Regions from separate parts of the Homo sapiens genome. Here all the other regions are linked to region 1. Evidence: fine-mapped expression QTL. A gene starts in region 1. Each other region holds a variant in brackets. All regions are shown on one strand. Distances are from middle to middle. Region 1 holds the start of PARP1 (poly(ADP-ribose) polymerase 1). Region 2 has its middle 56 kb from the start of PARP1. Region 3 overlaps PARP1 (poly(ADP-ribose) polymerase 1).

What was found. PIP is the estimated chance that this variant, and not a neighbour inherited with it, causes the effect.
Region 2: its variant is fine-mapped to the expression of PARP1 in whole blood (INTERVAL, PIP above 0.99).
Region 3: its variant is fine-mapped to the expression of PARP1 in whole blood (TOPMed, PIP 0.99).

Annotation. Positions count from the first base shown.
Region 1 is chr1:226,406,937-226,409,697 of GRCh38, forward strand. It overlaps PARP1 (poly(ADP-ribose) polymerase 1), which reads right to left and starts at 1,157. Exons shown (of 23, transcript NM_001618.4): 1 at 874-1,157. The coding sequence starts at 993. RefSeq lists silencers at 732-831, 1,082-1,341, enhancers at 1,372-1,501, 1,680-1,824 and a cis regulatory region at 1,752.
Region 2 is chr1:226,462,519-226,465,279 of GRCh38, forward strand. No RefSeq gene overlaps it. Among named protein-coding and RNA genes, the nearest start is that of PARP1, 56 kb to the left of the region's middle. The variant C/CA (reference allele first, on the strand shown) is at 1,210.
Region 3 is chr1:226,378,584-226,381,344 of GRCh38, forward strand. PARP1 (poly(ADP-ribose) polymerase 1) reads right to left here. Exons shown (of 23, transcript NM_001618.4): 9 at 2,485-2,625; 10 at 1,339-1,581; 11 at 990-1,058; 12 at 559-691. Among named protein-coding and RNA genes, the nearest start is that of PARP1, 28 kb to the right of the region's middle. RefSeq lists an enhancer at 526-1,725. The variant C/G (reference allele first, on the strand shown) is at 1,279.

The DNA.
Region 1 (2,761 bases):
GCACTAAGCTTGGGTAATATGTTGGAAGCGAGGAGGAACAGGGCAGATGAGAACCAGAATTATTAATACAAAGGTAGACATCGGCAAACTGGAAGCTGGAGGCAGGAGCCCCTGGGAAATGACAGGGGCCTTCAAGCCCACCACCTCACAGAAGGCTCAGGAAACCTCAGAAGGGGATTCAATCTATCAAAAAGCCCACATGAGAAACCCCCCTGGAGCCACTCTTACTCAAACCAGACAGCTGCAAATGCACCAAGAGAACGCGTCTGTGAATCTGGAAAATTTGGGGAAAATGTTACTTTAAAGCACAAATTAGGCTCAAAGTGAATGTACTGTACAGAAATGACACCTTTCTGCATAGTTCTGCCTAATTAAAATAAAAAATGAGAGTGAGCGTTTAAATGACGTGTTGAAATGACTGCCAAAAATAGGTTTAACAAAAAAAAAAAAAACCCACATGTCAGTCGCCACCATCCATGTAGAACAAAAACCCTCCAGAACAAGATAGGTCAAAATCAGATTAGCTTAAAGAGACCATGTACAATTCCCCCCCAACCCCTGAGGCGAACGGCAGTAATAAAACACCGCCACCCAGAAAGGAGAAGAGAAGAGGCTCCTCGTTTTCACAAAGCGAAAGGCAACACCAGCTGCAGACTTTATTTCCCGGGCTTTTCCTGCAACATCAGCAAAACCTTCCGGAAGGGTCGGCCGGGCCGCTCGGGAGGAGGGGCGGCCGCGGCCCCATAGGCCCCAAGTGCCGCTCCGAGGGCCCGGGCCCGCTCGCTCCCTGGGCCCGCCCTCCCCCAGCCTTCCCGGACACAGTTAACCCGGGGCGCCGCGTCCCCGCCCCGCCGCCCGCACAGCGGCCCGCACCTGCACCATGATGGCCATCCGGAGCGAGTCCTTGGGGATGCTCTCGCTGCATTTCTTGCAAGAGGCGCGCCCGCTCTTGGCGTACTCGACTCGATAGAGCTTATCCGAAGACTCCGCCATCCTCCCCTAGCTGCCGCCAAAGCTCCGGAAGCCCGACGCCACGACCTAGAAACACGCTGCCGCCTCGCCGCCTCGCGTGCGCTCACCCAGCCGCAGGCGCCTGAGCGGCCAGAGCCGCCACCGAACACGCCGCACCGGCCACCGCCGTTCCCTGATAGATTGCTGATGCCTGGCCGCGGGAACGCCCACGGAACCCGCGTCCACGGGGCGGGGCCGGCGGCGCGCGCGCCCCCTGCCGGCCGGGGGGCGGAGTTTCCCGGGCGCCTGCCGGGTGGAGCTCTGCGGGCCGCTGCCCTGGGGGCCGAGGCGGGGCTTGGGCTGAGCTAGTAGCTCTTTGGAGGACCCGGCGCCACCCCTTTGATTGTTCTGTCCCAGGAAGTCTTACTTGATTTCACAACTAATTTTACCCCCAACCCCTCCCCCTTTTATTTTTGAGACTGAGTCTCACCGCGCTGGAGTGCAGTGCCGCCATCATGGCTCACTGCAGTCTGGAACTCCTGAGCCCAGCGATCCTCCCACCTCAGCCTCCCGAGTAGCTGGGACTACAGGCGCTCACCACAACTGGCTAATTAAAAAAAAATTTTTTTTAGGGACAGGGTCTCGCCAAGTTGGCTAGACTGGTCTCAAACTCCTGCTACAAGTGATCTTCACGCCTCAGCCTCCCGAAGTGCTGGGATCAGGGGCATGAGCTACCACGCCGGCCCCAAACTCTTAAGTGTGTCCTCTCTCCCCTGAGGGCAGCTGGGTCCGGGAAGCGCAGGCCCCCGCCTCGGGAATATAGTTGATTGGCCCGAGGTGGACCCTGCAGTGCTAGGTCCACCCTCCTGGCTTGGACGGGCGTTCTAACCTGCCGTCCACAGACCGTCGGGACAAAATACCAACTGAAACCTAGCATTTCCTTTATTATGAATTTGACTACAAATACCAGGAGTATTAGCAGTACCTGTGACTTTGTGGGCAATAGTCATCACAGACGTTTTCATGTTACTTTACAGTTGTTGGTGATAACTCGAAATATTATTAAGCTCATCACTACTCGAAATTGTGGTAATGACTGCACCTGTTGCTATCAGATATTTTGTGTGTGTGTGTGTGTGTGTGTGTAAAGAAAGAGATGGGGAATCTCTCCATGTTGCCCAGGCTGGTCTTGAACCCCTGGCCTCAAGCAATCCTCCCACCTCGACTTCCCAAATTGCTGGGATTACAGGCATGAGCCACTGCACCTGGCCTAGATCTTGTTGTTTAATATAGAACTATACTTCAAAATATAGTTTATTAAAATTGGTTTCTTTTCTAATCCTATGCATTTTTTTTTTTCATTTCAAAGATTGTAACATGAGTGTGCTTTATTTGAAAATATTCAATTCTGGTATAGAGGATAAGAAAAATAAGCAGATGAATAAAACTCATAAAAAGTGTTAACCATAGAGAAGAAGCTAGTGGCTTAAGAGACAAGGATGTTGAGTAAGCAAGAAGGTTGTGAGACATAGGCCGAATCCTAAAAGTTAGTAACCAGTTAGATACGTTGAAGGTAGGCTGGGCACAGTGGCTCATGCCTATAATCCTAGCACTTTGGGAGGCTGAGGTGGCCGGATCCCTTGAGCCCAGGAGTTCAAGACCAGCCTGGACAACATGGCAAAACCTTGTCTCTACAAAAATTAGCTGGGGGTGGTGGCAGGTGCCTGTAGTCCCATCTACTCGGGAGGCTGAAGTGGGAGGATCACCTGAGCCCTGAAGGTTGAGGCTGTGGTGAGCCATGATAGTGCCA
Region 2 (2,761 bases), 56 kb after region 1:
TTTAGTAGAGATGGGGTTTTGCCATGTTGGCCAGGCTGGTCTCGAATTCCTGGCCTCAAATGATCTGCCCTCCTCGGCCTCCCAAAGTGCTGGGATTACAGGTGTGAGCCACTGTGCCCGGCCTACATTTCTGTTGTTTTAAACCATCAAGTTTGGGTTAATTTGTTGCAGCAGCCATAGGGAACTCTATATGATATGCAAATTAACGGACACAGTGCCTGGACCCAAAAAGTTTTTAGGAATCTGACCGATCTTGGTTTGAATTACCACTTCATCTATTGCTCTGTGCTTTGGGTAAATTACTTAATCTCAGTCTAAGCATTAGGTTTTTCACTGTAAAAGAGTAACAGCAACTGTTTCATAGGATTGTTGTGAGGGTTAAATGAGAAAATGTAAAGTGCCTAGGATAGAGCAGGATTTGCCAACCTTGGCACTATTGACATTTTGGGCTGGATGATTCTTTATTGTAGGGGGCTGTGCTGGGCATCGTAGGCTGCTTAATAGTCTCCTTAGCCTTTACATACTCAATGCCAGTAGGGTTCCTCACTATAGTGCTGATGGTAGGAAAATGTCTTCAGACATTGCCACCTGTTCCCTGGGGGCAACATCACTCTGATTGAGAAGGACTGGTACAGAGTTTGGCTCTTAGAAAGTGCTCAGCAGATAGTAACAATTATTCTTTACTGAATGAATGGGAGGCAGTAGAGTATGGTGCTTAGGAACTTGTGCTTGGGCCTCCGACTCCCTGGATTCTAATCCAATCTCTACCGCTTACCAACCCTGTGACCTCAGTTGTGTTATTTAACATCTCTGTGCCTCAATTACTGGTCTGCAAAAAGGAAATATAATAAGAGGTACTTCATAGGGTTATTGTAAGGATTAGATGAGATGATTCAGATAAAGCATTTATGATAGAATCTGCCATATTGGCTGGGTGCAGTGGCTCACACCTGTAATCCCAAAGCTTTGGGAGGCTGAGGCGGGTGGATCATTTGAGGTCAGGAGTTGAAAACCAGCCTGGCCAACATGGTAAAACCCCCTCTCTACTAAAAATACAAAAATTAGCTGGGTGTGGTGGTGCATGCTTGTAATCCCAGCTATCCAGGAGGCTGAGGCACAAGAATCACTAGAACCTGGGAGGCGGAGGTTGCAGTGAGCCTAGATCATGCCACTGCACTCCAGCCTGGGCGACAGAGTGAGACTCAGTCT[C/CA]AAAAAAAAAAAAATCTGGATTATGTTACTGAGAAGAAGGGGAGCATGGGTGCTGGGAAAGGCAATCAGCAGATCTTGTCATAGAGGGTTGAGTAAGTTTTCCAAGAGAGGGGCAGTTTCTACTGCTAAATATTGTGATTTTACAGAAGAATTTTGAAGTCCAAAGTTGTAAACCAGAGGAGGTACATCTAGGAGATAACTGGGGAGCAGATGGTAGAAGGAGAGTAAGTGAGGCTATCAAGCTGTCCATATACTCTCCAGCTAGCCATTAGAAATCGACATTTCCCCTGTCTAACTGAGAGGTGACAATGGCTAGCAGCCCTCGTTTGCTCTTGGCACCTCCTGGGCCTTGGCGTCCACTATGGCCATGCTTGAGGAGCCCTTCCAGCCCGCAGCTGCATTGTGGGAGCCCCTCTCTGGGCTGGCCGAGGCCGGAACCGGCTCCCTCTGCTTGCGGGGAGGTGTGGAGGGAGAGGCGCGGATGGGAACCAGGGCTGCGTGCGGCCCTCGTGGACCAGTGCGAGTTCCAGGTGGGCGTGGGCTTGGTGGGCCCTGCACTCTGAGCAGCCGGCTGGCACCACCGGCCTTGGGCAGTGAGAGGCTTATCACCTGGGACAGCAGCTGTGGATGGTGCCCCGGGTCCCCCAGCACTGCCCTGGCTCCCCCAGCGCCTCGCTGGAATTCTCACTGGGCCTCAGCCGCATCCCTGTGGGGCAGGGCTCGGGACCTGCAGTCCGTGGCCATGCCCCGGCCATGCTCCAGCCCCGCTGTCTAGGTAAAGGATTGTAAATGCACCAATCAGCACTCTGTGCCTAGCTCAAGGTTTGTAAATGCACCAATCAGTGCTCTGTGTCTAGCTAATCTAGTGGGTATTTGGAGAACTTTTGTGTCTAGCTAAAGGATTGTAAATGCACCAATCAGCACTCTGTGTCTAGCTCAAGGTTTGTAAACGCACCAATCAGCACCCTGTCAAAATGGACCAATCAGCCCTCTGTAAAATGGGCCAATCAGCTCTCTGTAAAATGGACCAATCAGCAGGATGTGGGTGGGGTCAGATAAGACAATAAACTCAGGCTGCCTGAGCCAGCAGTGGCAACTTGCCAGGATCTATTTGGGCACTGTAGAAGCTTTGTTTTTTTGCTGTTTGTACTGAATCTTGCTGCTGCTCACTCTTTGGGTTCTCACTGTCTCTATGAGCTGTAACACTCATATGAAGGTCTGCAGCTTCACTCCTGAGGCCAGCGAGACCATGAACCCACCAGAAGGAAGAAATTCCGAACATGTCCGAACATCAGAAGGAAGAAACTCCGGAGACACCATCTTTAAAAACTGTAACACTCACTGCAAGAGTCTGCGGCTTCATTCTTGAAGTCAGTGAGACCAAGAACCCACCAATTTCGGATACATAACCTCAGACCAATATCAAATTAATACCCTATCCAAGCATCCCTTCCTTAACACTAACCCTACCGCAATCTCATACCAACCCTAAACTCTTCTTCTTTTTTTTTTTTTTTGACGGGAGTTTTGCTCCTGTTGCCAAGGCTGGAGT
Region 3 (2,761 bases), 28 kb before region 1:
ATGCCTGTAATCCCAGCACTTTGAGAGGCTGAGGCGGGAGGATCACTTGAGTCCAGGAGTTTGAGACCAGTCTGGGCAACACAGCGAGGCCCGTCTCCATAAAAAATAAGGCATGGTGGTGCGCACCTATAGTCCCAGTTACTCAGGAGGCTGAGGTGGGAGGATTGCTTGAGCCTGGGAGGTCAAGGCTCCGCTGAGCTGTGATTACGCCACTGCACTCCAGCCTGGGTAACAGAGCGAGACTATTTCAAAAAACAAAACAAATAGTTGCAAAACAACAACAAAAAACAAAACACCAAACAAAAAGAAAAGCCAGCAGAAGAATATGTGAAACCATACCTTGGGACAACTGTACAAGGACAGCAACGCTACTGGTTAGTAAGTGGCTTCTTTCTCCCCTTTAAGCAAAGGCCTTATAATTTGTTTTTGATCTCTGTGATTAGATTTCATTCCCCAGGCACTGGGCCTAACGGGTTTCACAAGGCTGATGGCACAGCACTAACCAATGCAGGACGGGCCCATGTCTCTGCACAACCAGGCTACACCTGCAGAACTCACCTGTTTTCCTTGTCGTCCTCCAGAAGCTGCAGCTTGTAGTAGGAGTTGGTTCCTTTAACGATGTCCACCAGGCCAAGGGTGGCACTGAAGACCTTCCCACCTTTCTCCAGGACATGCGCAGAGTGTTCCAGTCCTGTCCCAGAGGAAAAGCACCTACAGTTTTCTCTCCCCTTGAGGTGCTAGCACTCTCACGGAGAAGGGATCTGCAGGCCTGAGGTTCACGCCTCTTGGATACACTACCACCACCCTCGGGAGGCTCCCCACAAATGTGTGTTCTCAGGACTGGGGGAGCTGGTGAAGGAGGCCTGAGTGAGGACAAAGGCACGACCACACTGCCCCAGGTATGCTGCGGGCATTTGGATGTGTGCTCCTAGTCAGCTGGGGGTTGGGGGGCGGCACAGCCCACTTTGCTGGCAGTCCTGTTTGCTTACCAGAATCAGGATCCACAGCTGCTCCTCCTTTAAGAGTTAATTTCATTCTCTTTTCAGATTTGTTGATACCTTGGAGGAGAACAGAAAAATGTAAACATGAAGTTAAATGTAACTAAAAAGTAAGGGGAAGGTAGAAGGCAAATGAGTTGTTCTCATTCCCATCATCTGTCAACTCGGCATCTATATACACACTACTCCCGCCACCCCAAAGCGCCTGCCATTCTGTGTCCTGCTCTGCAGCACTCAACAGGCCATGTCAGGGACACAAAGGGAGAGGTTCCGTGGACAA[C/G]AACCTGGCCACCAATGTCCCTGGCTTTTGGCCCTGGAGGGGGCAGCTTGGGGCCCTCACCTTCCTCCTTGACCTGGCCCTTGCTTTTTTTGGAGAGCGCAGCCCCTGACTTCCCTCTTGGGGCCACAACTTCAACAGGCTCTGCCTTCACCTCTGCCCCCCAAGGGGACAAGATGTGCGCTAAGAACAACTCCTGAAGGCTCTTGGTGGAGGCGGAGACGTCCTGGAGGAAGTCCTCAGACACAACTCGGATGTTGGCTTCCTTTACTTCCTCCATCTTCTTATTCATCTTTTCCACCTCCTCTGTTCAAATTGAAAGGAAAAAAAACCAAAATACAAGTTTAAAACAAAACTGAAACTTCAAATTACTACAGTTATATTTAGTGTGTACTTCCAAACCCTCAGCATTCACAGCTCTCCTTTGCTTCCAAGTCTAATGCTCCCAAGAGTGTTTTTATCAGCAACATTCCCCCTTTTCTAAGGTATGATGAGCCAGGGCAGCCTTCTCCAAACCATTCTACAGCACGATGTTAACAAACACTCCAAAGAAAAAACACCCTGATGTCAAATATGTATGGGAAATCCTGTATTCTATTTCTCTGGTTCCTGAAGACCTACAGTGGTAATCAGCATAATAAACCCACACAGAAACCTGTTTAGCTTTGTTTTACCCTACCTTTTCCAAACATACTTGAACCTTGAACTTCTGTTTTGGCAGATATCTATGCACATCTTACAGAGCAGTGCGAAGTGATGAGAATACAGGTTGAGCAGCTTCCCTTATCCGAGATGCTTGAGACCAGAAACCTTTCAGACCTTAAAATACTTGCTTCATATTTACTGACTGAGCATCTAATCCAAAACTCTGAAATCTGAAATGCTCCAATGAACATTTCCTTTGAGCATCATGTTGTCACTCAAAAAGTGTTGAATTTTGAGGCAATTTGTTTGGGCTTCGGGACTAGGGAGACTCAACCTATAGTAGCTTACCGTCTTTAGTTGAGAACACGCAATGCATGTGAATCTACAGTACAAAGCAGCAACACTGAGAGCAAATACTGGTTTCCCTTCATAAAGAACCACAGCGATGATGATGTTAAGATCCAGTTTTTCAGCGCTGTGTTCGACTCTTCCTCACTTACTCGTCATCACAATCATAAGATACAGAAGCATTGTCCCTGTTGCACAAATTCAGATTCAACTCACTTTTGGTGCTGATGCACAGGGAAGCCTTGTTGGCCGTCCCCGTCAACTTCCCCCCGAGTTTCTCAATCATGGCCTTCACTTCATCCTTGTTCCGGGACAGCTTCCCGAGAGTCAGGATCTTCATGTTGGATAATGGCTTATCTGGGATGAAAGGAGAGAATCATTCAGCAAGGCCAGCTCTGGTGCTGCTCCCCAGTAAGGGGAGGTGGAGGAGCAGGTGAGCCAAGCAGCGAGCTCCTGGGAAAAGCCTATGAAAATACACTCGCGAGAAAACAGG